7 linked regions of the Homo sapiens genome follow. The protein of the gene in region 3 purifies or fractionates together with the protein of the main gene of each other region. This does not show direct contact. Each region holds a gene or a part of one and is shown on either strand. Other genes may lie near its edges.

Region 1 (4,093 bases), on a different chromosome or scaffold from region 3:
AGAGCCCACATTCAGATGGTCTCTCAAGGGAAATGGGCCCAGGAAGCGACTACACTTGGTATTTGCCTTCAGTAATTCTCTTGGCTCCTGAACTGGGGTGGGCCTGAAGTGGTCCTCCTAAGACGCTGGAGTCTGACTTGAATGCCCCAAGGTCACCATTTGGCACTTATGTGCCGCCTAATACCAGGGGTTTCCTTTTCGTGTATATGTACCTATCTCCCCAACTGCCACATAAGCTTCTTGAAGAAAAAATTCATTCATCACGTCTTCATATGTCTAAACTTCAGCCCCATCTCCTCCCAACCATGGTTCTGCACACAGCGGGTATTCTGAAAATACCTGTTTGAGCAGGGGAATCTTTCCATTCAGGATAGCTCTTTTCAATTCTAAAATTCTATAAGCATATAAGGCTAAATGGATTAGAACTCAGAACATGGAACGGGGTTGCTGGATGGGCTCAGCCAGCCACAATGACTGTCCTTAGTCAAAAGACTTTCCAGCCCACTTAAGCCTCCTCCACACGTAACTTCTCCGAATAATAATAAGAGGGCAAGGTTCTCCCTTAACAGGGAGAAAATTGCAAGTTTTCCCATAAGCCACTCATTTTCCCATCTATTTCAGGGGCCCTCTCTCCCCAGTAGAGTTGTAGGAGCAATTCTTCCTTAGAAATGGCGAACTAATCATTCCAGAACAAGCCCAATGCCAAGGCAGTGCAAAAAGGCAGGGTAGTGAGGTGGTGAAGGGGTAACATGAGGCATGCCACTCCTTTGGGGAGTATTTGTCCCTTTGTCCCAAATGGTTAACATGCAAGATGGAGATGCAGTCGAGACCAGAGACCGGGGACTCCTGAGACAACCACATGGACTTGAAACAGCAACAAATGTTGGATGGACACATGGGAATGAGGGATGCTCATGATGAGCCAAGAACTGAGTACCTGGACTCCTGGAGAATATCGCCTCTTCTGGGCCTGAGAGGGTCCAGCAGGTTATGATAAAAACAAGAGAGGGCACAGAAGACAGGAGACCAAGTCAGAAAGACACAGCCACAGAAGAGCTATGACCCAGCTGTGATGGATGAACAAACCAACTTAAATCCCCAAACAGAATTTTAGGGTCCCTGAAGGGCATCCGTGAAGTCTTTGCACCCTCAAGATGATAGGCAAAACCATATGCACGGGTGCTTGTACATTTTTCTGAGGAGAGGGTCTGTTACTATATCAGATTCTCAAAGGGGTCCCCTAGGAAGACCGCTCTAACCCATAGAGGGTCCTGAAGCTTTTGGAAGGCACTTTATAAAACACATAGCAGTACGCTGTCCAGGCACGCCGCACTTATGTCTCTGGGAGTCAGTCTCAAGTTTGTCTGTACCCAGCCTACTGTATTTCTATAGCAAGGGGAAAGAGGAGACAACAGGGCTAAATTCTTCCAAATTCAAGACATCCTTTACTATCCAGGATCTCAGGAAACAGCTCCTGCCCAGAAGACCAAAATCTTGCCACTTGAGAGACTATGAAACTAACTCTAATCCAAAGGGATCACTTACCCTCTAACTGAGCCTTATGGTCATATATTCCCAAATAACTATTGTCATTCTAACCTACCACACATAGGCAAGGAAGAAGCTCCATGGAGGCATTGCAGAATGACAGATTTAGAAAATCATCAGGCGTGAGGGTATTAAGCTCTGCTCCAGCAAACAGCTGCAGTTCTAAGCCATTAGCGACAAGAGGTACCTACACAAGCTCAGCTCAGCTCTGCCCTGTGGGACAGGTAGGCGAGGGTACAGAACTCAAACCCTTCACTCCTTTAATACGGTGAACACCTACTACAAGCCAGGTACTGTTCCAGATGCTGAGGGTCCAAAGAGAAACAAGACAGACAGGAATGGAATTAAGATCAGAGTGGAAGAAACAAACAACAAAGAAGCAAATAAAATTATTTCAGATAGTGAAAAATGCTATAAGGAAAATAAAATAGGTAATACAAGGGATGGGCAAGGGAACCTCTCCCTGAGGAGGCAATATCTGAGCTGAGACTCAAGTAATTAGAGGGAGTCCACCAAAAGATCTGAGGGCACAAGAAGCATGAGGGTGGCACATTCAAGGAACTGGAAACAGATCAGTCAGAATCACAGCTTGTGAGAAGAGGCTGCCATGAGGCAAGGCAGCACCCACGGCACTGGGCTCCATGGGCCACAGCCAGGAGTCCGAGGCTGCAGTGCAGATCCCCTGCCGTCCTCCTCTTAACACCACTGGCAGAATTCATACAGGACACAGAAAGGCATGACATCAATCCGTGGATGATTAAACTGGCATGAAGTTAATCTTCAACAACTACCATTTAGAACAAGGAAATGGTGAGCATGTTATCAAGCAGTTTACAGAAACTGGCATCTGAGAGTATGCTCATAATTTCAGTGACAATTAAGAAAAAGGGATTAAAAATGCCCTGTGGAGCTCTGATGAGCCCAAGGCTTCCTTCACTCATCACCTCTAGTAACCCTGATTAGAAGTTTAAGTTGCAACTTTAAAGAGATAGCAATCTCCTATGTTAGCTTGCTTAGAAAATAAACAAATAATAAAGAGACAGCAATCCTTAGCCTAAGGGTGCCTTACTCTTCCCAAGGCTGGTGTGGACCCAGTTCCAGGTAACAGCCAGAGGCATGCTGGACCTTGGGAGCACCTGAAGGAGCTTGTTAACTGCACGTATACATGGGTCCCTCAGTCAAAGAGTCTCATTCGTATGGCTAGAGTGGGGTGCAGGATTGTTTTTTGTTTGTTTTTTTGAGATGGAGTCTCACTCTGTCACCCAGGCTGGAGTGCAGTGGCGAAATCTTGGCTCACTGCAACCTCCACCTCCTGGGTTCAAGCAATTCTCCTGCCTCAGCCTTATGAGTAGGTGGGATTACAGGCGCTCGCCACCATGCCCAGCTAATTTTTGTATTTTTAGTAGAGATGGGGTTTCACCATGTTGGTCAGGCTGGTCTCGAACTCCTGATCTCGTGATCTGCCCGTCTTGGCCTCCCAAAGTGCTGGGATTACAGGCGTGAGCCACCGCACCCAGCCAGGATTATGTATTTTTAAAAAGCACCACAGAAGGCTGTGATGTGCAGCCAAATTGAAGAAACGCTGCACCAGACAGGGAGCCTCACAGCTTTGCAACTACAGAGAATCTGTCTACTTCGGCAACACGAGTTGGCCTTCAACTTTTAACCTCACATTAGTGTAAGTCACTAAATGCCATCTTATTTTCTACGCCTAGTCAAGAGTTCCTGGAAGTATTTCTTGGATAACCACTAATTTCACACAGGAGCAATTTTGTTTTTCCCCTAGAAAGCACTCTGTAAGTTAGAACCAAAGATTGAAGAATCACACTGGTTCAGGCAAGGTGGTAGTTTTATTCCTAATTTAAGAGTCACCAGAAAGGAGAAACTCTCACCTGTTTTATCATCCAAAGGACTGTTGTTTAAAGGGTGGAGAAATGTTTTCAACTTTTTGTACTACAAGACTACTTTTAAAAAAGTGTTTTTTGAAGACCTCTACGGGATAACTGTATCTTCAGCATATTTCGATGGAAAAGACACCCATTAGCTTGTGGATTTATGGATTCTAGGCTAAAATTCCAAATGGCCTCTGTAATTAGGGAGACCTGAGTTCTAACTGCAGTTATGTCACTTATAGCTGTGTAACCCTTCGGTGGATTACATCACCTCTTTGAGATTCTATTTCCTCACTGTAAACAGAACAATACAAAGCTCACAGGGTTCATTATGAAGATGAAATGAGATATGCGAAGCATTTAGTACAATGTCTTGGTGTTCAGGAGGGAGTCAATAAACATTCAATCAGTGACTAGTGTATTTCTAGATACAAATATCGTTCACAGGTACTCATATATATATAAACACAAAGCCAAACATACATCTTCTAAAGCACGAATTCCCAGACCACTGGCTGTGATCAACCATTAATATTTCCAAAAATATTTTGGAGAGTATTAGATTTGGCTTCTTTTTATTGCCTACTAAAAATATTAAAATACAATAATGACAGAACAATCATCTATAATAAACATCATTTTACAAAGGGACA
Region 2 (4,093 bases), on a different chromosome or scaffold from region 3:
TTTGTATTTAGTCCTGAGAATTATGGGCCAACTGAGATCTCACTTATGATTTCGTGTGTTTTAAGAAGTGCCGTGACATGAAGAGAGTTGAAATTTTAGGATTGAGCAGAGATCTCTTGTCATCAGACATACTCCTAGCCTAACTCGGTCTCTTCCTCATTGCCAATTCCTGGTCCTGACCCTATGGTGTAGAATTCAGACCAGAGGAGAAAGAGTTGTTTCAAGGCCAACTTCAGACGTTGACAGTGAAATAAAACATTACTCTTTTCCTTGTATATGGAAGCACTGCAAGGTCAGAGAGGAAGAGCAGTGGGTGAAAGCAAATGATTTCCGTCTGTTCTTAACTCTGATGCATAAAAGATGTGTGTAAATACAGAGTTTTCTGATGAAGACCATAATAAATCAGTGGAAGATTTTTGGAGCTTTTGACTCTAGCTTTGGGGCTGCCCAGTCTAAAGTTACTTCTGAGATGAAATGATGTATCAGGGATTTTTTTTTTTCATTAGGCCAGGTATTCTAGCAGTTAATCTTGAAGTTGTGCCTGGTTGATCTTTTAAGATAATTGCCATCACCACATAGTTTAGAAATCTCCCACCCCAAGTTGAAGGTGATACACTAAAGAAGGGAGAGAAGCCAGAAGCCTCACTTTCATTCACTTAGTCATTCTTTCAACATGTCGTTTCCAGCACTTTTCTATGTGCCAGGTCTTGAGCTGGGTGCCTGAAATAAAAAAGATAAATAAGACTTCAAGGAGGTCTTACATATGCTCAATAAGCAAGACTGGGAAAAATAAAATATTTTTCTTTGTTAGAAAAAGCTGGGGAACTTTGCTTTAAGTACAATCCTTTGAGAAGGCTAAATCAATTACCCATTCACAATGTGGAATGTTACATTATGGATTTGTGTGAAACGGCACTTCTATAATGATTAGAGAGAGATGTATGTTCCCTTTAATATGCCACACAAGCTGTTCCACCAATTTTCTTCTCTTGGCCTTGGGCATACTTACTTGTCCGGTGCTGTTAGTATTATTAGAAATTATTAACAAATGGCTGTAAAGGACTATAGGTTATAGGAGCCAGTGGCTCTGCTTCCAGCTTCTCCCATTTTTTTTTGTTTTTCATTTTGAGACAGAGTATTGCTGTGTCGCCTAGGCTGGAGCGCAGTAGTGTGATCTTGGCTCACTGCAACCTCTGCCTCCTGGGTTCAAGCAATTCTCTTGCCTCAGCCTCCTGAGTAGCTGGGACTACAGGCGCGTGCCACCACGCCCAGCTAATTTTTGTATTTTCAGTAGAGACGGGGTTTCACCATGTTGGCCAGGCTGGTCTTGAACTCCTGACCTCATGATCCACCTGCCTTGGCCTCCCAAAGTGCTGGGATTACAGGCGTGAGCCACTGCACCTGGCCTCTTCTTTGTTTTAAAGCATGATTTATTTATTTATTTTGAGACAGCATCTCACTCTGTTCCTAGGCTGGAGTTGAGTGATGAGCTCATGGCTCACTGCAGCCTTGACCTCCTGGATTCAGGTGATCCTCCTACCTCAGCCTCCTGAGTAATCAGGGCTATAGGCATGCGCCACTACACCCAACTAATTTTTGTATTTTTTGTAGAGACAAGGTTTCACCATGTTGCCCAGGCCCATCTTAAATTCCTAGGCTTAAGCGATCCGCCCGCCTCAGGTTCCCAAACCGCTGGGATTACAAGCGTGAGCCAATGCGCCCAACCCTACAGCATGATTTACTCTGGCCAAGAGAGTTGCCAGGAAATTTGTTAATATTTAAAGCTTAGTTTTGATTCAGTCAATATTGCAAATCTAGCCCTATCAGAGGAAGGTCTTTAAAAACAAAGGCTATTTCATTTCCCAAGGATAATGAAATTACTGCATCTTTTATTATTGTTGGTTGCATTCCTACTCTTTTGAATTAGAATACTTTTATCAAAAACAAGAATATTCAATTAGTGGTAGAAGGCACCTAATTCCAATCCTATCTATTACTAACTAGATGTATAACCTAGTAAAAGTGACTCACTTCTCTCTAATATTTGTTTCTTTATGTAATAGAGAGTTTCATACATTTTTCTAAAGTCGATTCTAAACAATATTAGAGTTAAGTATTGTGTGGAAGAAGCAAGAGTTTGAAAATAAAGTTTTATACTGACATTAGTTTTTTTTTTCTTTTTTTGTTGAACCACCCAAGAATGCATATGCTGACATTAACTTAATGTAACATTTCTGTCCCCAGATTTAGTGCTATACAATGTGCAGCTGCCGTCCCTAGAGCTCCTGCTGAATCCTCTTCGTCTTCCAAAAAGTTTGAGCAGTCACATCTTCACATGTCAAGTGAGACACAAGCCAACAATGAGCTGACCACCAATGGTCATGGCCCACCTGCATCCAAGCAGGTTTCCCAGCAGCCCAAAGGAATTATGGGAATGTTTGCCTCCAAAGCTGCTGCTAAAACCCAAGAAACCAACAAGGAAACGAAAACAGAGGCTAAAGAAGTAACAAATGTAAGTCTTCTTTGAAGATACCCCTTCATTGCAGCTCAGAGTGGGTAACTAGAAAAGCATTAATGGTTGCAGTGGTAGTAGTTTATTTATATAAGATTCTGATATTCAGTTCTGATTTTTCTACTTTAGTTTGAACCCTTTAATACTTGATATTGTTATCTGAAAGAGTTCTTTTGCTTTTGATAATGATTCTCACCAAACCTTGGATTTCCTTTGCAAAATGGTAATGCCTACCTTGTGCACATTACAAGATTGTTGTGAAACCCAGATGAAAACATGTGAAAACACCTCGAGAATTGTTGACATTCAAAAAAATGTTTATTTGCAATATGTCTTTCTGAGGAACATCTTATATTCTGGGCTTTGCAACATATACCTTCCTTCCTAGTGTATTTCCCATTCTTATACTTTATGCAGGTTTTTTTGTTTTGTTTTTGCCTTATTTGCTTCTCTTAGATTTTTATTGTTCAGTCATCTGAACTAACTCAAGGGCATTGACTTAAGAAAAGTATCATTAAGATACTATTTTAAAAATCCAGAAAAGCATAATTATTGTTGTTACTATTATTATTATCACTGTCATTTTCCAGTGTCAAGTGTATTTAATTCAGATCACTGTCATTTTCAAGCGTCTGTCTTGGGAAAGAAGAAGGATGGAGGAAAACACTAACGTTTATTGAATTTCAACTGTGTGCCAGTGTCTTTGTTTAAATCCTCTTATCAGTTCTGTGAGGGAGATATTAACTATTTCCCTTTCGCATATGGTAAAACTGAAACCTAGACTTAAGTAATTTGCCTGGAGCCCATATTGCTACTAAATGGTGGGAACCAGGAATTCAGATCTACTTCTGATGATTAAAAATGTAATGTTTTAGGTTTTCCCGCTTTGTGTACATACTGCCTCTGATCTTTTTTAATTCTGTCAAATTAAATAGTTTTTAAATGTGCTCAAGAAAAGTTTAGCTATATCCATGGATAATTAATTTTATAAGATATATAAGAAACTAAGCTTTAGAGATTAACACCAGTTACTGTCTGGTGTGGATTATTGTTCTAGATTTGTTCTTATATCTAACACCTACGCGTTTTGGCATGATTATATAGAGACTATACCATCGCAACAGTTTGCTATAGAAGAGTTTGTTTGAGACTGCTACTTCATGAACAGCCTAAATGCCAGCAAAAAATCATATGTGTTTTCTGTGCTTGTAGGCATCTGCAGCAGGCAACAAGGCACCAGGGAAAGGGAATATGATGAGCAACTTTTTTGGAAAAGCTGCTATGAGTAAGCATGTTCTTACCTCACTTTGACTAACGAATGAATGTTAATGTAATGACATATTATACCTGAAGTGAAAGCCACTTTGTCTAGTTTTTGCCAATCCAAGAGACTACCTGCATTCTAACAAATTTCCAGTGTACTGCCCAATATATTGATGAAAGTAACTCAGCTAGAACTTTATGGGTGAGTTAGGCTCAGTTGAGATCTCTTTGAGAGCAGTTTATTATTCCTGGTTTAACTTCCTGCCTTGAAAAGATAATGAACTATTTGCTTCATAGGGCCCTTGAAAATGGGTGATT
Region 3 (4,740 bases):
CGCCTGTGGCGGTGGGGATCGAAAGAAAGGAGGGCATGTGGAGTCAGGGCTATGTTGCCCAGGCTGGTCTCGAACTCTGGCCTCAAACGACCTTCCTGCCTCGACCTCCCAAAGTGCTGGGATTACAGGCGTGATGCCCGGGCCTTCTTCCATCTTTTGGAGCCTACCCCTTGTGTTACCTCCCGCCACACACCTCTAATCTGAATTACATGAAACACGGCAAGACACCAAACCCTTCTGAGCCCCCCACTTTTCATCTGTAAAATGGTCATAACAGTGCCTGTTTCTGCGAACTATTGAGAGGGGCAAATAGGGTAATAGATGTGAATTCATTCTGTAAACTGGAAAGTGCACACCCGGTGTGAATCCTGTCTCCACCCTTAGCCCCCGGGGCCCATTCTCTCGGTCCTCACCGGTTGCCAGCGTGACCCAGAAGGCGGCGCCGTACTGAGTGGTGAGCGCGGAGGAGCCTAGGCGGAGCGGGCAGAGCGGCACGCTAGAGATGGAGGCCAAGGCGAAGACCCCGAAGAGCGCGAAGGCTCCGGTGGTCAGCAGTGCCAGGCCTCCGTAGAGCGGGGCCGGCGTGGAGAGCAGCACGTTGGAGAGGAGCCAGAAGCAGAACGCCACCCTGCCGGGGAGTGGGGGGACCCGCTGTGAGCGGGCTTCTCCCAGCCCACCGGGGTTCCCACAGCTGCGCTCTTCTTTATCCCTACCCCAGCGTCAAAGCCAGGGACTGGGATGGCAGCGGTGCAGGGGAATTCCCCGGGGGAGAAGCGGGCTCCTGAGGTCCAGGCGGTGGCTGGAGTCTCTCCGGATTCCGTCTGTGCAGATCTCGTGGATCTTCTAACCCGCGAGGCTGTCATGCCCACCCCGAGCGCGTCGGGTCTGGCTGCAGCTGCTCAGCGCCTCCGAGGCCTGCATCCTCCCGCTCATACGGCCCAGCTCCTGGCACACACACACGTGCACACAGCCTTCCCTCCAGCACTTACCATAGCGTGGCCGAGGCGTAGTGTCCCGCCAGGTGGTACTGGTGGTACAGGCCGCAAGGGCTACTCGGTGTGAACTTCTCCGCCAGGTAGAGCACTGGGTCCGGCAGCCCCTTCTCCAGTGCGTTCGCGTACTCCGCGGCGTAATTCTCTTTCAGACGCCAGGTGAACTGCTCGTTGTAGTCAATGGTCTCGTTCAGCTGATGCACTGGGGTCCCTGTGGGGTGAGGCGGGCTCATGGGGCTGCCCGCGGTCGGAGACCTCGCAACTAAGCGGATTCAGACAGGAAAGTGGGGGTGTGGCGCTCTCGGCGGGAGAAATGGGTTCGGTGGTGGTTGGAGAAAACGCAAATCCACGAGGACCACAAGCTATTTGAGCTTGTGGGATGTGAGAGGCCCTCCAGCTATCCCTGACACACTCACCTAACCGGGGATCTCCCAGCTCCAGGAGTTCATTTAGCCCCAGCCCCCTCACCTGTGAGTGTAATATTAATGCCCTCCAGGCCCACGAGCAGACGGACACGGGCTGTAACGCGCGCTGCGCTGAAGGCTTTGTAGGATGTGTTGGTGTTCACTGTACCCACGAACCATTCTGCACTGAAGTGCACAGCTGTAGGGAAAGGCACACGGTGGGGGTGGGATGAGGGTGGGAAAATGGAATTAGAGAGTGGTATGGGAGGTGGGACACTGCAGAGAGATGGGGACTTAGAGGTCCAATGTGGTTGCATGGTAAGGGCCAAAAAGTGGGCCCTAGAAGGAGCTGGAGAGTGGGAAGAGGGAGCAGAAAACCAACCCCAGTTCCCTATTGTCCCAGGTGCCCTCTGCCCACCTCCTTCCTCACCCCGTCCTCTCCCCATGGGCTGCACCACACACTCACCCACAATTTCTGCGCCTATGAACAGACTGAGAAGAACTCTCACCAACCAAAACCAGCGCTGCAGGAATAGGCACCCGGGTCAGGCCTGAGCCCTGCCAAACCAGAGTCCCCAAGACCACCCTTGACCCCACTTCACCTGGATCTTTAGTTATATCCAGACTTTTGAGACTAATGTTAGGCACGCTTTTCCTGCAAGTCCCTCTGGGCTACTGGCATTTCTGATATTTTGTGACCACGCACTTTCACCTCCCTAGCCCCATTTCCCATCTACCCTAACAGCACCTCCCCTCCACCCCCACTTCCTGGCACTCTTCCACCACCTTCACTCCCCTAGCTGTCTGGCGCCTGGTCCTGGTTCTGCCTCCTGGTCCAGTCACTGCTTGGTGAGGCTCAGTGAGTCCAGAAGTGCTAGGCACGCAGGGGTCACCTCCCTCAGAAGAGGGAGGCCCCAGCCTGATCTCCGAGGGGAGGAGGTGGGAATGCAGATACTCCTAGGTGCACCAGTTCCAGGGAAAGCAACACAGATTAAGATGCAGAAAAGCTGGGTCCTCCCAGAACTGAAAAATGCACAACCTAGGTTCTGGGAGAGGGGGAAAGTCTAAGACAATGCACCCAGTTGGCTCCAACTTCTAATCCAATGTGGGAGTCTCAGTCCTGAGGATGAGGCACCCATACACATGTGTCTCAACCCAGTGCAAAGGGGAACACTGCAGTCTGAGCTGCTGGCATCTGTCCTTTTGGCCTGAAGGTCATCACCCACCGGATGGGATGAGAGTGCAGCTTTAGTCCTGGGAGAGGTGGGAGGCCCTCCAGCACAAGAAGCCTAGACTGTTCCTCAGGATTACTGGACTGGGTGCCCATTCTCTGCAGCAGCCTTCCCAAGGACCCAGCTGGGGTCCTTCTCCAGGATATCCTGGATGGGGAGCTCTCCCTATCCTTGGAAAGGGGTGCTTGCTGCACCAGACTCCTGACTTCACTCCACCTGAGCCTCAATTCGACTATTCATGGAGGCTCTTGTACAGTCTTACCTGTCCTGGGTCCCTCAGGAGACAATCTGCCCATGAGCCTTCCCCCACTCTACCTGCACTATGAGGACACCCTTACCGAGTGGCCACGGATCCCCGGCAAGATGAGCAGGAAGCTTGCTGCTAGAGCCAAAAACACTAGAATAACGATGAGCAGTGGAACGCTGAAGCCTGCGGCATGCCGGGGCTGGGGGTAAAAAGGCAGTACGCCGTTCCACAGGGTCATGCTGCACGCCGGCCGAGTGCTGCACGCAGGCGGGCAGGCAAGCCAGCAAGCTGGGGCTGCCTGGACGCGGGAGAGCGCGTCCTTGGCGTCTCTTTGCGTACAAGGCTGGGACCGAGTGGGCTGGTGAAGTCTGAGTCCTGCACCTCTCCGTTAAGGAAGCGTGGAGGTGGGCTGCTCTCAACGCTCTGGGGTTGGTACCGACAGAGTTTTTCTAGCCGGCGAGCGAAACTATTTCTCACTGTCTGTAGCCGTTACTTTCCTGGTTCTGCGGGTTGGCGCTGAGTTTGGAAGTCGCGCGGGACCCCTTTTATAGCAGCGTGGGCGACGTGCCACACGGGTGTCCCAGCCCAGGGGCTGGTCTGAGCTGGAAGAGGTTGTGCAAATAAGGGCCCCACCTCCACGGCAGGAGGGTGAGCCCTAGGTCCAGATGCTCACACTGGCGCAGGTCTGTCCTGAGCCGACACCTGCACAGTGGCGAGACCAAGGACCCAGAGAGAAAGGTGAGAGTGCAGCCGGGGAGGCTGAGGATCGGCGGAGCTGGAAGAGTGAGGGTGAAGGCAAGAAGTAGAGCACAGAAGCAAAGATTTTAAGAGGAAAGAAGACATCTGAACCCAACACCACCCTAAACCACAGGTTAGACCAGAGTTTGGGATCTGACCCTAGCCCTCGCCCATCATGCACAGGCGTTCATTGCAGAAGGGGAGTTTATTGGGGAAGGGGGGATTCATTGTGGAAGGGTGCTGCAGTCCCTCACTCCCAGGTCAGTAACCTTTTTCCCTTCCCTGCCTCCTGGAGGAGAAGCGGAGCCTGACGGATCGGGGGCGGGTGGAGGTGAAACATTGGAGACATTGGGCACACCCTGGGAGGCTTGACCAGTCCTGCCCTGGACTGACATGCCCCAGAAGACTCCTGCCCAGTGGGTTCCTATGGTCGGGGGTTAACTCTCTGATGGGGTGGCGGATGGGGAACAGTGTCAATGCCTCCAGAGCTGCCAATTGTCCTGGAAAGAGTGGCGTTTGGATGAAGGTCCTCGGTGATGCTTCTAACAGCTACCTTCCAGAAGTGGAAACAGCTGGTGCTCCTCCTCCAGTACTAGCTGTAGGAACAAGAGGGGAGGCATAGAGGACGCCCTAACAGTGGCTTTCGCATACCACCTACCACCCCCACCCTCACCCCGCAGGCTGCAGGGTTGGCATGCTCCGTGCAAGACCAGAGGCACTGATGCTCCTGGGAGCTCTTCTGACTGGATCCCTGGGTCCATCGGGCAAGTATCAGGCTCCTCTAGCGGCGGGGTGTTCCCCAGGATCCCTGGGAGGTGGGGCGGGGAGAGGTGCGGCAAGCGGCTCCCTGAGACTGGAAGGTCATTTCGCCGTGCAGCTCAGCGGGATGGGAAACTTCCCAGTGCGGCCCGACACTTGGGTCCGGTTAGGGGCGCTCCGCGAGCTGGGGAAGGACTGGCCAAGGCCTTCGTTGCTCGGGAGGGGTAGCTGGGAGCGTAGTGCTGAGGAGGCCCTTCTCTGTGCCCACAGGCAGTCAGGACGCACTCTCACTGCCCTGGGAAGTGCAGCGCTATGACGGCTGGTTTAACAACCTGAGGCACCACGAGCGTGGTGCTGTTGGTGCGTTC
Region 4 (4,093 bases), on a different chromosome or scaffold from region 3:
TTCAAGATTATACTTTTCAGCCTGGCTATACAACTGGCCTATAAAACATGAAGTTATTTCAGTTGTTTAACAAGAATTCATTCTCAATTCCACCAAATAATGGTATCACAAGTTCATCTCAAAACACAAATTAGTGATTAATACATCAAAAAACTTAGTACACCAAAATTGTAGAGAGAATATGATGAGCATTGAAAGGTTAGATGGAAATACTCTTCCGATACCATTGACCAGAGCTCAAATGCCCTGTTTTCAGATACTGTCTTGATCCCATCTAAAATATAAGCCAATTGTGTGAGACTATATACCAATTAAAATACAAAAACTAAAATAAAGCGTAAAAGAAGGCAAAAGAAAATTGATTACTCATTGCATGCTATTTTTTAAATTCATTACCTTGAACATTACTAAACATATCCTAGAAAAGGTCTTATCTTATTAAACTGTCCTCAATGATTTCAAACTGTTATTTCTTATGTAATTTTGTTTTCTTTGATCAATACTTATGAATGAACACAGTAAGCCTAGTGTCAGCAAATTTGTAAACTACTTTGTTAAATTTTAACAGCGTATTATAAAATATTATGACATAATTTTCCAAGTTTCAGTAACCATTTGCTGAATCTGACAGTTTAATGTATTTGACTTCATTGCCAGAATCACAATGCTAAAAATATGTGTGGGCTCTTTAATAATAAAAAAAGAAAATCTATTCATTTTCAAGAAAGCTGCTACCAAACTACTGAATATATTTCAGGTCAAAGAATAAAAGAATTATTTTTAATTCAAATCTAATGACATAAAATGGAGTCCTTGCTGCATTCTCCCAAGCCAGGTTTAGCTGCTCTGTTAGATCTGTCTCTATTTAGGGGAAAAATTGTGTTTTATTCTTTCTTTAGTCTGCACAATTGACCTCTTCTTCTTCCTCTTTATCCTCTTCTTTTTCTTCCCCTCCCCTCTTCCTTCTCTTTCTCCTCCTGTTCTCGTTTCATCATCATCATCATCATCATCATCATCATCATCATCATCAGCTATGAATGGGTTTGTATTCAGAGCACTTTGCAGGTTGGGTTCATGAACAAACGATAAAAACTTTACCCTTCAGGAATTTGTACTTTGAGAATGGAGCTACAGCATAACACATACATAAGAAAAAACAGTAAGATATGCCATATAGTAAGTGACAAACATTTAAGAAATAACTGTTACAACAATTCGAAAAAGTTATTAGTCCTTTAATTCTGACTCTCTGACTCAAGGAAAATTGCTTGGTCACCTTTTTAAATGGGCACAGTGTGTTAAGATGAGAGGAAAGGAAACATGGAGAAGGAATCTGCATTTACTCAACTCCTAGTATGTTCCAGGAATTGTAATAGGCGCTTTTACCTAGTCTTTATTACATCTAACTCACATTAAACAGACCTAAACCCAAAGATAATGGTAGAGAAAATTAATTCTCAAAATGGAGATTTTGAAAAAAATATGGTTGAATAACACAGATTAAGTTACAGAGAAAATGAAGGTGGAGAAAAGGAGCCAGGGCTTTAACACAGGTCATCTGATTGGGAAACCAAAAGTCAATTGGCCACTCATTATGATGGTCAATTGAAAAACTCCTGGCCCTTATACATATTTAAAATTCATGGAGACAATCTGAGTGGGTGGTTTCTGAATTCTAGATCTTATGACTCAATTACAACTTTCTACTGTGAAAGGTTGAGCAGAGATTTAAAATGCTTTAAGTTCAATTATTCTGACTAATATTCAAAGCATTCTTTTCACTGTAAAATGGTTTTTTTTTTTAACTTGATGAAAAACTAAAATAACGTCTCTGAGACAATAAACCACTAAATGAATCTGGCTTTGGTAATACATTGGTACTATTTAAAACAGAGATTCTCAAAGCCTATGGTTGGTTTTAAATTGACAAACCACATTCAGTGTCATATCTAAGAGTTCCATTGTTCAAACATTGCTCAATCCTTATTTTAATAATGAATTCTATTATTGAATATTGAAATATTGAAAGGTGTTTGAAGAAAAATAAATATAATTCCTTACTGCCACTCAAATGTACAGTCTGTGGTTCCAAAAATTTGAATTTAAATGCCCTTATTGTGGGAAAAATAAATTTTTAACTAGAAAAATGGAGAAATCATTTGGCTCATTCTCCCTTCTGCCCACCTCATAATCTTTCTTGGAACTGAAATGGAAGACTACCTCATTTTGTTACATGACAATTCTTTTTTTCTCTGGATGTTTGTGTGAGGTTTTCTCTTAGTTTCCTGTAGAGTTTGAACCCAATGGCCCTTGACTAAATAGTGTGACCGTAAAGTCAAAGAACATTTGATATTTATTAAAAAGCTGTAATCAATATTTATTAACTAGTGTTAAGATATATTGACATTAGACACTGCATATGAAATGCTTAGAACAGTGCCTGGATTATTAAATATTAGCTATTATTATTAATATTTTCCTTGACAAATAAATCATGCTAGTAAAAGTACTTAATTATGTTTCTGATGTTCAATAACGAAACTGAACAGAAAAACTGATATGGTATAGGCTGTTAAAAATGAAAGTGGGCCGGGCTCGGTGGCTCACGCCTGTAATCCCAGCACTTTGGGAGGCAGAGGCGGGCGGATCACGAGGTCAGGAGATCGAGACCATCCTGGCTAACACAGTGAAATGCTGTCTCTACTAAAAACACAAAAAATTAGCTGGGTGTGGTGGCGGGCGCCTGTAGTCCCAGCTATTCGGGAGGCTGAGGCAGGAGAATGGCGTGAACCTGGGAGGTCGAGCTTGCAGTGAGCCAAGATAGCCCACTGCACTCCAGCCTGGGCGATGAGCGAGACTCCATCTCAAAAAAACAAAAACAAAACAAAACAAAAACAAAATGAAAGTGGATATCCACCAACACAGGAAATGTGTAGAAGAATCTCAAAAAATTTTTTTTTCAAAAAAAAAAGCTGTCAAGTTTTGGGGGGAAGGTAATTTGGCCGTGTACTAGTTCTTTATTTGAATTATTAACTAAACTTTGTTGCATAAAACAACAATCGGAATAAATACAGGTGTAAAGTTTTTCTCCCATATTTTATTTTTGTTAAGAAAGAATAGGTAATTCACCATTCAAATAACCTTTCTAATGGGGAATATTAATTGCAACCATAAAAATGTAGAAAATAGTTTCCCAGACATTGAAAGTTCTATTATAAATCAATGAAGAATGCTAATTAGCAAAATACTTTAATTGCCTCACTTTTACTTGATAACCAAGAAAAAGCATGACCATCCCCTTTTAGGAGACAATATGAACAATCTCTTTTATGTTTCTAGCATCATTCTCAGGGATAGATTTCATCCAATTCCTCTCTTTGATGGAGGTAAGTAAAGTAAAACTCATCATTTCTCATATGATAAAAATTTAAGTCCAAAAACATTAAACAATTGAAACAATGTAAGAAAGTGTCTTTCTTTCTTTGGGAAATCAATCTGGATATATACAGCAGTTAATGTTCTAACATGTTGACATCTCTTAATACACATCATTTAAAAGCCGACAGTCATTCTTCCTTTTTTCTCTGACCTCAGATTTCCTCATATTATAACTTAATTCCCTAGTAAACTCTATAAACAGACTCCAATAAGGAACTGAGTCTCATCTTTGACCAAAGTTATATTTCCCACTCACAATTTGAAAAAAAAATCAGTTATCTTCTGTTTTTCTTTCTTTATGTTGTTCACAGTACAAAGAAGTAAGTTACTGTTGGATTAAGAATATCCAAGACAATGGTCACAACTTGAAAGCACATGGAAAAACATGAATTATTTTTATAATGTCAGCTAATCCACAGCTGTGCCACCTGTTAGTATGGATGCTATCCAAAAGGATTTTTGAAAGTAAGCCAGGCAGTCTGCCTTCGATGTATGAAAAAGAAAACTGTCAAACATTTTGAATGGTGGGGAGGGGTTTTTGCTTGGGGGAAAATGGAGTTCGCAATGGACAAACTAGAAGTTATCTCCTGTATCCTATGAATCTCTCATGAGCCATTGTCTTCTGATGAATTAAGGAATAATTAATTTCTAAAAA
Region 5 (3,812 bases), on a different chromosome or scaffold from region 3:
CCATCAAAGGTGGTCCCAGATAGTAGGGACATCGTCGTGAGCACGTGCTGCACAGGGCCTCGGCTGGGGTGGGGGACACCCTAAGAAGGGTGGCCAGGGAGGCCTCTCTGGATATGAGACGTGTGAAGACAAGAGAAGGATCCCCCCATGGAGAGATGGGGGGGCCTCCCTACTCCAGGCGCGGTCCACAGACCAGCAGCAGCAGCGTTGTTAGGAGCTTTTTGGAAACGCAGCCTCTGGGCCACCCGGGCCCTGCCACATCAGAATCTGCATTTTCACAAATGCCCAAGGGGTCACGTGCACATGATAGGATCAGGAGCCCTGGTCTAGGGGAAGGAAGCTCCAGGCAGAGGGAGAGGCAAGAACAAAGATCCTGAGGTTGGAACCGGTTGTGTGTAGGAAGGACAGTGAGGGAGAGCGTGGCCAGATGGCGGCGGGTCGGGGCGGAGAGGTGGGATCCCAGGGCAGGGTCATGATGGCTCTGGCTTGATGCCAACAGGGTCCCTTTCTGTGCATGTACCTGTGTGTGTACATTGAGGTGCACACACAGGCATGCACACCCCTCTGTTCCTGGCCGTGCAGAATGGAAGGGGGTTGTATGGCCAGGCCCAGGGGCTCTCATGGGGTTCAAGGCCAGCCTCCCATACAGGGTCACCCTAGAATGGGAGCTGGGAGTTGGTGGTGGGGAGATGTTACCACATTTCGGTTATTTAACATTCAAGCCTTCATTCCTGCCTGTGAGATGAGGGGACTCAGGATTGTAAGTGAGGCCCATACATTCACACAGACATTTACTAAGCTGTGGATACATCATAGTGCTATTAATTTGAGGGGTGCAAAATCTCACAGTGCTTAAGTGGGTGGACTTCAGAGCCTGTTCACCACAGTTTGAGCCCTGGCTCAGCCACGTCCCTTTACCTGAGCCTCCTGGGCCTCAGTTTCCTTGTTTACAAAAGAGAATAGTAATGAATAGGATGGGCCTAGGAAGTTTGTGACAGTGAGAGGCCACACGGGGACGCAGCACAGTGCCCGGCTCATAGGAGGTGCTCGCTGGGTCTCATGGGTGCCCGACAGCACGTGCTTGGCAAACACTATGGAGAGGTGGGGCAGACCCGAGTCACAATGGCTGGGGAGGGAGGAGGAGGGATGGGGTGGGGCTCCCCCACCTGCTGACCCCGTGCCCTCACTGCCCGCAGGCTTCCTCATCTTCATCTGGTACTGGTCCATGCGGCTGCAGGCCCGGGGTGGCCCCTCCCCTCTGAAGAGCAACTCAGACAGCGCCAGGCTCCCCATCAGCTCGGGCAGCACCTCGTCCAGCCGCATCTAGGCCTCCAGCCCACCTGCCCATGTGATGAAGCAGAGATTCGGCCTCGTCGCACACTGCCTGTGGCCCCCGAGCCCGGCCCAGCCCCAGGCCAGTCAGCCGCAGACTTTGGAAAGCCCAACGACCATGGAGAGATGGGCCGTTGCCATGGTGGACGGACTCCCGGGCTGGGCTTTTGAATTGGCCTTGGGGACTACTCGGCTCTCACTCAGCTCCCACGGGACTCAGAAGTGCGCCGCCATGCTGCCTAGGGTACTGTCCCCACATCTGTCCCAACCCAGCTGGAGGCCTGGTCTCTCCTTACAACCCCTGGGCCCAGCCCTCATTGCTGGGGGCCAGGCCTTGGATCTTGAGGGTCTGGCACATCCTTAATCCTGTGCCCCTGCCTGGGACAGAAATGTGGCTCCAGTTGCTCTGTCTCTCGTGGTCACCCTGAGGGCACTCTGCATCCTCTGTCATTTTAACCTCAGGTGGCACCCAGGGCGAATGGGGCCCAGGGCAGACCTTCAGGGCCAGAGCCCTGGCGGAGGAGAGGCCCTTTGCCAGGAGCACAGCAGCAGCTCGCCTACCTCTGAGCCCAGGCCCCCTCCCTCCCTCAGCCCCCCAGTCCTCCCTCCATCTTCCCTGGGGTTCTCCTCCTCTCCCAGGGCCTCCTTGCTCCTTCGTTCACAGCTGGGGGTCCCCGATTCCAATGCTGTTTTTTGGGGAGTGGTTTCCAGGAGCTGCCTGGTGTCTGCTGTAAATGTTTGTCTACTGCACAAGCCTCGGCCTGCCCCTGAGCCAGGCTCGGTACCGATGCGTGGGCTGGGCTAGGTCCCTCTGTCCATCTGGGCCTTTGTATGAGCTGCATTGCCCTTGCTCACCCTGACCAAGCACACGCCTCAGAGGGGCCCTCAGCCTCTCCTGAAGCCCTCTTGTGGCAAGAACTGTGGACCATGCCAGTCCCGTCTGGTTTCCATCCCACCACTCCAAGGACTGAGACTGACCTCCTCTGGTGACACTGGCCTAGGGCCTGACACTCTCCTAAGAGGTTCTCTCCAAGCCCCCAAATAGCTCCAGGCGCCCTCGGCCGCCCATCATGGTTAATTCTGTCCAACAAACACACACGGGTAGATTGCTGGCCTGTTGTAGGTGGTAGGGACACAGATGACCGACCTGGTCACTCCTCCTGCCAACATTCAGTCTGGTATGTGAGGCGTGCGTGAAGCAAGAACTCCTGGAGCTACAGGGACAGGGAGCCATCATTCCTGCCTGGGAATCCTGGAAGACTTCCTGCAGGAGTCAGCGTTCAATCTTGACCTTGAAGATGGGAAGGATGTTCTTTTTACGTACCAATTCTTTTGTCTTTTGATATTAAAAAGAAGTACATGTTCATTGTAGAGAATTTGGAAACTGTAGAAGAGAATCAAGAAGAAAAATAAAAATCAGCTGTTGTAATCACCTAGCAAACTGGCGTAAGCATTTTGGGTCATTTCCTTCTGAGCTTTTTCCTGTGCTTCTATTGAAAGAGTCACTGATACTAATACAAATACCTTGGGGCCAATCAGGAAACATGAAAGAGAGAAGAGGGCTGTGTGTGAAGAAAAAAAAAAAATCGACTGCTGGAAACCTCATCAACCAGGGCACAGGGGAAGATAAATGGCAACTTGGTGTCTGTGCTGGGGAGGCAATGGGGAGTGGTGGGGCCTGTGGCGAACTGGAGACTCCCAACCCCATGCTGAGAGCGTGGCTGCTCATCAGCTCCAGCTGGTCACTACCTTGCAGGGATGAGGGCCCATGTAGCCAGACCACCTGCCTTTTATGAGAAATGGGAAATCCAGACTGTGGTTTGACATCCCCTGATTTTAAAATTTTGGCGAATCCAAAACATTTTCTGGCCAAAGAGATTACAGTCAAAAGCTGCCTGGTCCTGGGATTTATGCAACCAGTTTACTGATCACTCTGCAGCAGGTGGGCTGCAAGAATTAAATCACTGGACTTCTCTCCCATCCCTGCCTTTAACCTTGTTCCACCAAATCAATCTCTCCTCCCGCTCCTAAGGCCCAGGTGAGGCAGATCACGCAGGTTCCCATCTTCCCTGTGATGAGGGCAGTCACAACGGATCATTGCTACTGTGTTCAGGTAAGAGGTCCCAGTGCAGCCAAAGTCCTCCCCAAGGCCCACAGTCCACTCTCTCCCTTCTGCAGGCTCCTCCCTCCTCCCCTGGCCACTCTAGGGGGATGCCCAGCAGGGGAAGAGGCTCAGAGTCTTGGATTGGACAAGGTGGGTGTGAGGCAGCTGGGTCTAGACTGGCAGTGCCCTCTGAGGGGCGTGAATGTGGGATCTTGGGACCTGCAGGGACCAAGAACCCCTGTGCCCTGCTGCTCTCCCAGCCCTCCCTCCACCCCCTCCACTCCCTCCACTGACCTCTGTCCCCACCTTTCTGCAGGTGGGGGGCTCCTCTTATGCCCCCAGCTCCAAAGGACAGAGGCCAAACCTTCCCAAGCCT
Region 6 (4,093 bases), on a different chromosome or scaffold from region 3:
CCCAAAAAAAGGAAGAGGAAGCAGCAGCAGCTCGGAGCAGATATCCAGTTGGTAAGATGACTTTGTTTCTTATGGACCTATACCTCTCCCATGAGGGATAAAAATTAGGATATCTAAGGAGTGGGGGCATTCACCTTATATTGTTGCCACGGTTTTTGGACTTCCTTTAGCCTTTTCGCACATATCTTCCTGCTCCATGCCTCTTCCAATTTAGCCCTGTAGGAGCTGCAGAATTGAAGCACAATGACACAGCTGCAGATCCCTGGTGGAGCCTTGCTTCAGAAAACAGCTGTTAATCACATGTTTGTTGTATTTTCCTATTTACTTCCTTTTACTTCCCTTCGCTTCCCTTAGCCTGTCCTTGAACCAGTGTTACCATCTTCTGGGCTCTACTCTATGAAGGTTAGTGATTTCCAGTGATATAGCACTGAGCTGAGCATGGGAGGAGGGGAGAGACTCAACAGCTGCCTAGGGAGTCCCAAAGGTTTAATGCCAACTTTCTCTTACCCTATACTGCACAAAATAAAGAACAAATACCCTAATATCTCCCCAAAGAGAACTGCATTGTTCTGTATAATTTTCTTTTATCTTATAACATAGTAGAATCAATTCAAATACAAAATAACATTGACCAGAGATGAAAAGGAAGCTATACACTTGTGTGCACTATTTGGAAAGTAGTGTTGTGCTTAGCTATAAAATCTCACTTTTTGGCCTTCATCTATACTTAATACATTAGGAACTACTTTTATTTAAGCAAGATTTAATGTATTACTTTCATTACAAAGCTGAGAAACTCTAGACACCACAAAGATGTGAATTTTAAATGAAAAAAAGCAAGGCAGTAAAGTAAGCCCCTGGCAGCTTGATGAATGAGCAGGTGCAATGCACCATTTGAAATGTATCTTGAGGTGAGCTTCCACCAATCTGCTGGAGAATGAGCTCCTTCTTGCCACCTAAACTCAACTGATTTTCCTCTTTCTGAGACCACAGACAAAAACATGATAGCATACAATAGGCTAGATTATGACCTGGTCACATAATCATTTATCTCTCTAAACTTGCTGTTGAAGTGAGCAATGTTACTGTTAATGTATTCATATTTGTACCTAAAATATATTAGTGCCAATTCTCCTAATTCTATAGGAAATTGAGGTCCTAGAAGGCTAACTGACTAATTCAAAACTACATAGGATAAAACTGTAGAAACAGTGTTAGTCACCGTACCTGCAATAGATATTTCACTTAATCCCCACATAACCCTTTCAAAGTAGGCTTTATTAGATGTCTACAACACATGAAGAGAATGAAGCTCAGAGAGTTTAAGGAAAATAGACATGACTATTCAGCCAAAAAGGGGCAGAGCCAGGATTAAAAACAAGTTCTTTCTCATGACAGAGTACATGCTTTTCTAGTATGTCATACTGCTGCTTTTAAGGGAGCCATTCTCTTCAGTTAACTGGACCTACCTATTTTCCCCCATATTTAAACAAGGAGTTTGATTATTCCTTGAATTTTATTTTAGTACTCATAATTTTTTAATCTCCTTGATATCTTTTTCATGTCCAAAGCATTATCTGCATTTCTCCAAGAGCAAACTTTTACAGTTACTTTCCAAGGATCTCATAAACAGTAAATAACTTTTTCAGAAAATATACCCCACCCCTATCTGCCACCCTGCCTGTATCATCTCTGGGGGTCAGAGCACTTGGGGAAAACTGAGGGGCTTTCCATTTTCTTTGAAATTTGTGCATATGTAGCCAGGATGCCTGCTAAGGATCCAGTACGTCAGTTTCAGCCAGTTGTTCTTTTCTGCCTTTCCATTTCTGCACACGTGTCTTCTCTAATCTGCAAAATTATCTTCTTCATTTGGCCAAACCCTATCCATTTGTCTAGGGTGGTTCATGTTCCTTCTCCACCATAAAATTTTTCTTATTATTCCAACCCTATTGCTGTTCCTTACCTCTGAAATTCCAAGTAATTTCCAATAACATCTGCTGTCTAATTTGGTCTTTATTCAGGGATTAAGAGGAGTAAGCTAACATTTTTTGAGCCTTTACCTTATATACTTTTACATACATTATCCATCAACTATAAATTTCTATTTCTTCATTATATTTCTGCATTTTGCCCTTATTATTTTTTCGCACTCGATAGTCACCCAGATGTTGTGATACATTTCCGGAGTTTCAGTAATGACATTCAAATTTTATATTTCTTGTCCATGCATTGCTCCTGATTGTCATACCTATATTTCCAAAGATCTAATTTCATCTCCACCTAGAAATGCATCACAAGCATTTTAAAGGAAACTGTCCTAAAGGAAAGCATTCAAAGCCACAGGTATCATCCTCCCTGCCACACTTGCTTATCTCTTTAGATTTCCAAGTGGTAAATAGCACATCATGCATCAAGACACATTCCTCTTTGCTATGTCCCTCTGCCTCATTCCCTATGATCATGTAGTGAAAAGAAAAAAAAAATTATGATTTTTCTCTTGAACTTCACCTCTTCTCCTCATGGGCCTGCCCTCCAATTCTTACTTCCACTTCCTGGGATCAGCCATTTGAAGTCATGTGCAACAAGTTTGGCGAGCTATCTGTCAGGGCAAAAATGACAATTTCTAAACTCCTTAGTCATTGAAGGTACTCTGTGATATGAAGCATGAATTCTTCTTTTCAGTCTTCAGAATTATCAATTACTATGAAAATTTACTTGCATTTTCTTAAACACTCAGGATGTTTCATTCCTCTCGGCTTTTGTGTGTGTGTGTGTGTGTGTGTTTGTCCAGAATTCTGCCCCAAATGGTTCTCACTTTCTTATTTTTTTAGCGATGTTTGAAAACACAAAACAAGTGTCACTTCTTCTGTGAAGACCTTCATGTTAAGAAAATAGGTTTAAGTATTCCTCCCTTTCTGATCATTTAATAATGCCTCTGAAATTCCATTGTAATCATTTATTCGTTTCTACTATGAGACTGCGCTATGTTCTGAATGCTGTGTCTTCTCCAAATTCATATGCTGAAATTAAAATTAGGAAGTGGGGCCTTTGGGAGATGACTAGACCATGAAAGCAGAGCCCTCAGGAATGGAATTAGTGCCCTTATAAAAGAGGTCTGAGTAAGCTCTCTTGCCCCTTCCCCCCCGACTAAACATAAGAAGATGGCTGTCTATGAAGCAGAAAGTGGGTCCTCCCCAGACACCAAATCTTCCAGCGCCTTGATATTGGACTTTCCAGCCTCTAAAACTATGAGAAAAGCATTTCTATTGTTTACAAGGCACCTATTCCATAGCACTTTGTTGTAGCACCCTAAAGATACTAAGACAGACTCTAAATTCTGTGAAGCAGTATGTCTCAAACTTTGTCCATTGAACCAAATAAATCTTAAAAGTGAAAAAAGTAGCCCTTAAAACACCAGTCCCAGGATCCCCCATCAGAATTACTACAATAGAATATATGGGGGTGGGGCACTTGAGTCCACATATTAACAGAATCTATTCCAGGTGTAACTAGGAACAGGGAGTTTATCACAACAATTGCTCTCCAATTCAGTCAGATCAATATGGCACTTAATTTAGCATTTGGGGGAGGAGCCATTTGCAAAGCTTTTTAGATCTTATTTTGTGTCTTCCCAGATTACCGTGCTTCAGAGAAAGATTTGCTTAGAGTATAGTAAATTAGATCACATGAGTCACTCTTACTGAAGTACAAGAGTCCTGCATCAGAAAGGCAGATTTGCCAAGAGCAGAATTTCAGTAATCACATGTGAACATGGCATTTAGAGTTGAGGTGCTGCTGTGCAGAGTACTTGGAGCTTTTAATGACTCTGACTTTTTATTATTATGACAAGTTTGATTAGCAGACACAAAAATGAGTGAAACAAGTTCCCTTGAATTACCACCCAGGTTAAGTAATAAAAGATTAAATGTAATATTGAAGTTTTCTGGGTACTCTTCCAGATTGAATCTCCCTTCTAAGAGGTAACCAGTGTGGTAAATTTGCTGTTATTATTTCTATGCATTTTCTCTTGAGTTTACTGTATATATTACATATTTAATTCATATATAGTATTGTCTTAAGTAAATAAAATATT
Region 7 (3,521 bases), on a different chromosome or scaffold from region 3:
GTTGCAGTGAGCTGAGATGGCGCCATTGCACCCCAGCCTGGGCAACAGGAGTGAAATTCCAGCTCAAAAAAAAGTTTTTAATGTGTGTAGTCCAACTCTGTTATATCCTCAGTTTACTGAAGTCTTTTGTTTATGATAAGGGTATAAACACTAATAGGATAGAAATGTGTTGTTACAGTTTTAAGTGTTTTTTTTTCCTTTTCTCTTTCACAGCATTTGGAATTTGAAGTCTATAAAAGGTTTTTTGACTGGTGCATGTATCTTACTGAATATAGTAGCAATATTCTTGTTCTGTAGCAAGGTGTTCATTCCATTCAGTATTTATTAAAGTACCTAACAAGTGCCAGGCACTGTCCTAAGCACTAGTATTACACGAGGTTTTTCGGGAGCTAAAACCTTTAGGGTAGGACAGAGAAGGAGAGTGCAAAAAGGACTCTCGAGAAAAAAAAAATGGTATCTCAGGTGCTTCTACGAGGCTGGTGCTGTGGTGGCCCCTGCCTTGTAGAAACAGTGAAAGCCGCACTGCAGGTAGATCAGTGCGTCCAGAGCTAGGCGAAGAGGTGAGGCTGGAAGGACACACCAAGCTCAGTCAGAAAGGGTGGTCTTTGTGAACCAGGCATTTCGATTTTTTCTTAAAGGCAGGGAGAAGCCTTAATTATTTTCATCATCAAATTTCTCTTTTCTGGTTGACTCAAGGGGCTCTGCACTACATGGCATTATCTAGGTAAGGTTTCTGAACAATTAGAGTAAGGGATTGTCCCTGATTTCTTTCTCTGAGAATTGCAATCTCCATCTTTGCTAGTTCTATTTCTATAGAACTTTTCAACAGCAGAAACCTCCTTGCTCTATTTGTATACACAAGAAACTGTGCAGCCAAGGTCCTGCCATTAAAACTATTGATTCACTTGACTCCAGGAACCCAGGAGGCCAGAGGAGAGTTCCATCTCTGCCTGACCTCTTTGCCTTCTTGTGGTGCTTTCCTGTTTGAAGTTCCCATGCTGGTCATCTCACAGGAAAGAAGCATGTCCTATGCACTATGTCCCTATGCAATCCCATTCTGACACCCTCTCTACCAATTTCTCCTTTAAAAAATCTGGATCTGGTTACCTGGACAAGGCCTTCATGTGTAAAAGGATCAAAAAAAGGTTAAAACAGAATGAGCCTTTTTTCTCTGTCTGTTAAGAGAACAGATTTTAGGACATTAAATTAATAGAGAAAGTTTTGCTGAAAAAATGAGATGATTAATAGAATGCTGGTTACCTAGGGAGAGTGGGGGATTACCTAGGACTGGTAGAGGATTTTTTACTTTTATCTTGTTTTTTGACAACGTGTATCTTATTAGGAGGGAGTCAGACCGCTGCTTGTCACTCACTTCATGGTATTTTCAGAGTCTCAGCCTCCTTGCAAGGATTTCTCAAAGCATTTAAGAATCATATAATACAGACCAGTTATTGGCTTTTAAGTTTTCTTCTTTAATAAAATAACTCAGTGGCCCTAGGAGAAATCTGAGAAATTTTCATACTCTAAATGAGATTTTGCTTGAAAGTAATTTTCTCTGCTGGCAAAAAGGATTAATACTGACATGAAACATGGGAAGTAGAATTGAGTAACACCTGGAATTTGAAAATGAAAGGGCACAGAGTGCCAGGCAGGGGGCAAGCTGAGGTTTCTCACTACAGTACTTCAATCCTAAGATGCCACTGAATGGTCTCTTACAGTCCTTTATGGACTATTAAGAAAAACAGATTGCTAGTTCAATTGTCACATGCTATCAGTTGCAAGTGGTAAAACTATACATCTCAGAATCAGTAAAGTGTGGTATCTGGAATAACAGTTACAGGTAAATTTTTTTTAATGATTTTTATGATGAATTACATACATAGAATTAAAAGTTCAAAAACCTACCTTAAAGGGTAAGATACGTTACTTTTCTATGCTAGTAGGAATTCAAATCCTTGAATGATAAAGCCATTTAGAGTCTTATTCCAAGGTCCTGCTGACAGAGCCTGATGTCACGATTTCCATGACATAATCTTGTAACTTTGTAAAAGGCTTTCCTTTCCCGTCTTCTCTATCCAGGGCTGGTGCGGATGGAAGGGCCCAGATTTTTGGAACAAGGATGCATACTATAACTTATGTCTTCCTCAGCGACCAAATATGATTTAAAATATCTTGGAGTCAAAGACTGCAGTAGAGTGGTATTATAAATTTGTGAATAAAGAATCAGTTTAATTTTTCACATTAAATCCTGGTTCTAGTTTGACGATTTAAATTATGACCTTTTTCAAAGGTTGTAAATACTGCACGGAGAATGTATTTTTTAGACGTTCCTTTAATAACTTAAAAGACAAAGCATACACAACCAGCATATTATAGGCATGTAAATACATGTGTTCTTAAATGGATCTTCACTTGGAAGAAAGTTTTTCGTCCTTCTCAGAAGGAGATTAGACACAACATATGGTAAAGCCAAAAGCAGGAGCTTATAGATTTGCATGAAATGAAGGCGTTCTTCAGACTTCTTCATAACCCACGTGACATCTGTTTTTAAAAACACGTTAACATTAAAAACTTTTTTTTAAAAAGAGTTTTATCCCCAAACTTCCACCATGCAGTCCCATTTTTGGTCTCTAGACTCTGGTAAGTATAACCAGTACTAAAATGTTAATGAGAATGAAACAATACTACTAGAAATACGAGTGTCAGTATTAAATGGAATAATAAATGCTATGCAAACAAGAGATCACTGCGGGAGGAAAAAAGCAGCAGCTCTGAGTTACTTACCAGCACTTCCTTTTCCCACTGGTATTTTCTACACTTCCGAGACTCCGTTTCTGTCTGAGCACGGCAACACAATCATTCCTGTCAGGGTGTTCACTTGCTTTTATTGTCTGCATACATTTAATTGTTGTAAGAAACTTGGCACAGTCTGGAAATCCACATGACCAAGCGAGATCTTCAGCTGTTTGCCCGTTCTTATTACATAAACTGAAAACAGGATAAAAACGGAGTGAAATGAAACATTGAACTTAAGTCTTTTTTTTTATATCTTACAAGGGAATTTTGGGCTCATACAAATGTTGGTTGCAGAACAGAAGAGGTAAAGGATGCATAAGGAAATTGCATTTTTGGTCACTATTGTATCCTCAGCAACTAACAGAATCCAGCATAGAGCGGGCATTCCAGTTCTGAATGAATGTTAGAATTATCTGATGTTTAATACAGTGTATGAGTACCCAAAGGTAGTCAATGGGAACTATAGAATGGGTTTTCCTGAACCGAAACTGAAGTAGAATACAGTCATAATGAACAAAATTGCACCTCTGATTGCTCAGGATCTGACTTTTTACTTACTCGAACTGAGTATTATTCGATAGCACCAACAACCTAAGTTAACATTTAAATGATTAACACTAAATTATCAATTACGCAAGCATTATTTTTAAAAGCACATGTAACTAAGCTTCAGGAGTCTGATTAGTTTAATCCAAGAAAACATAAAATGTGAAGCCACTGTTTTC

The links.
Region 1: the proteins of DUOXA2 (region 3) and LMAN2L purify together in Homo sapiens (co-immunoprecipitation; 2 studies listed by BioGRID and IntAct, with this or other methods). This does not show direct contact.
Region 2: the proteins of DUOXA2 (region 3) and POLD3 purify together in Homo sapiens (affinity purification with mass spectrometry; one large-scale study listed by BioGRID and IntAct). This does not show direct contact.
Region 4: the proteins of DUOXA2 (region 3) and GPM6A purify together in Homo sapiens (affinity purification with mass spectrometry; one large-scale study listed by BioGRID and IntAct). This does not show direct contact.
Region 5: the proteins of DUOXA2 (region 3) and ADGRG1 purify together in Homo sapiens (affinity purification with mass spectrometry; one large-scale study listed by BioGRID and IntAct). This does not show direct contact.
Region 6: the proteins of DUOXA2 (region 3) and ROBO1 purify together in Homo sapiens (co-immunoprecipitation; one large-scale study listed by IntAct). This does not show direct contact.
Region 7: the proteins of DUOXA2 (region 3) and UFSP2 purify together in Homo sapiens (co-immunoprecipitation; 2 studies listed by BioGRID and IntAct, with this or other methods). This does not show direct contact.

Annotation. Positions count from the first base shown.
Region 1 is NC_000002.12:96,712,170-96,716,262, forward strand, and holds part of LMAN2L (VIP36-like protein isoform 2 precursor), read right to left. Parts: intron 971-4,093; coding exon of another isoform or gene 938-970; intron 1-937. UniProt on the Homo sapiens protein: May be involved in the regulation of export from the endoplasmic reticulum of a subset of glycoproteins. May function as a regulator of ERGIC-53.
Region 2 is NC_000011.10:74,616,293-74,620,385, forward strand, and holds part of POLD3 (DNA polymerase delta subunit 3), read left to right. Parts: intron 1-2,244; coding exon 2,245-2,512; intron 2,513-3,724; coding exon 3,725-3,797; intron 3,798-4,093. UniProt on the Homo sapiens protein: Accessory component of both the DNA polymerase delta complex and the DNA polymerase zeta complex.
Region 3 is NC_000015.10:45,112,979-45,117,718, reverse strand, and holds the start of DUOXA2 (dual oxidase maturation factor 2), read right to left. Parts: upstream 3,394-4,740; 5' UTR 3,114-3,393; coding exon 2,967-3,113; intron 1,921-2,966; coding exon 1,863-1,920; intron 1,596-1,862; coding exon 1,461-1,595; intron 1,255-1,460; coding exon of another isoform or gene 1,204-1,254; coding exon 990-1,203; intron 629-989; coding exon 414-628; intron 354-413; exon of another isoform or gene 205-353; coding exon of another isoform or gene 4-204; coding exon 1-3. Other genes in the region: DUOXA1 (dual oxidase maturation factor 1), read left to right, coding at 1-204; DUOX2 (dual oxidase 2 isoform 2 precursor), read left to right, coding at 4,308-4,377, 4,643-4,732. UniProt on the Homo sapiens protein: Required for the maturation and the transport from the endoplasmic reticulum to the plasma membrane of functional DUOX2. May play a role in thyroid hormone synthesis.
Region 4 is NC_000004.12:175,802,177-175,806,269, forward strand, and holds part of GPM6A (neuronal membrane glycoprotein M6-a), read right to left. Parts: intron 3,904-4,093; exon of another isoform or gene 3,750-3,903; intron 1-3,749. UniProt on the Homo sapiens protein: Involved in neuronal differentiation, including differentiation and migration of neuronal stem cells. Plays a role in neuronal plasticity and is involved in neurite and filopodia outgrowth, filopodia motility and probably synapse formation.
Region 5 is NC_000016.10:57,662,256-57,666,067, forward strand, and holds the end of ADGRG1 (adhesion G-protein coupled receptor G1 isoform b precursor), read left to right. Parts: intron 1-1,196; coding exon 1,197-1,327; 3' UTR 1,328-3,312; downstream 3,313-3,812. UniProt on the Homo sapiens protein: Adhesion G-protein coupled receptor (aGPCR) for steroid hormone 17alpha-hydroxypregnenolone (17-OH), which is involved in cell adhesion and cell-cell interactions.
Region 6 is NC_000003.12:79,761,300-79,765,392, reverse strand, and holds part of ROBO1 (roundabout homolog 1 isoform a precursor), read left to right. Parts: intron 1-4,093. UniProt on the Homo sapiens protein: Receptor for SLIT1 and SLIT2 that mediates cellular responses to molecular guidance cues in cellular migration, including axonal navigation at the ventral midline of the neural tube and projection of axons to different regions during neuronal development.
Region 7 is NC_000004.12:185,399,037-185,402,557, reverse strand, and holds the end of UFSP2 (ufm1-specific protease 2), read left to right. Parts: intron 1-1,834; exon of another isoform or gene 1,835-2,079; coding exon 2,080-2,166; 3' UTR 2,167-2,540; coding exon of another isoform or gene 2,541-2,541; 3' UTR 2,542-2,780; coding exon of another isoform or gene 2,781-2,988; 3' UTR 2,989-3,021; downstream 3,022-3,521. Other genes in the region: ANKRD37 (ankyrin repeat domain-containing protein 37), read right to left, coding at 2,781-2,988. UniProt on the Homo sapiens protein: Thiol-dependent isopeptidase that specifically cleaves UFM1, a ubiquitin-like modifier protein, from conjugated proteins, such as CD274/PD-L1, CYB5R3, DDRGK1, MRE11, RPL26/uL24, TRIP4 and RPL26/uL24.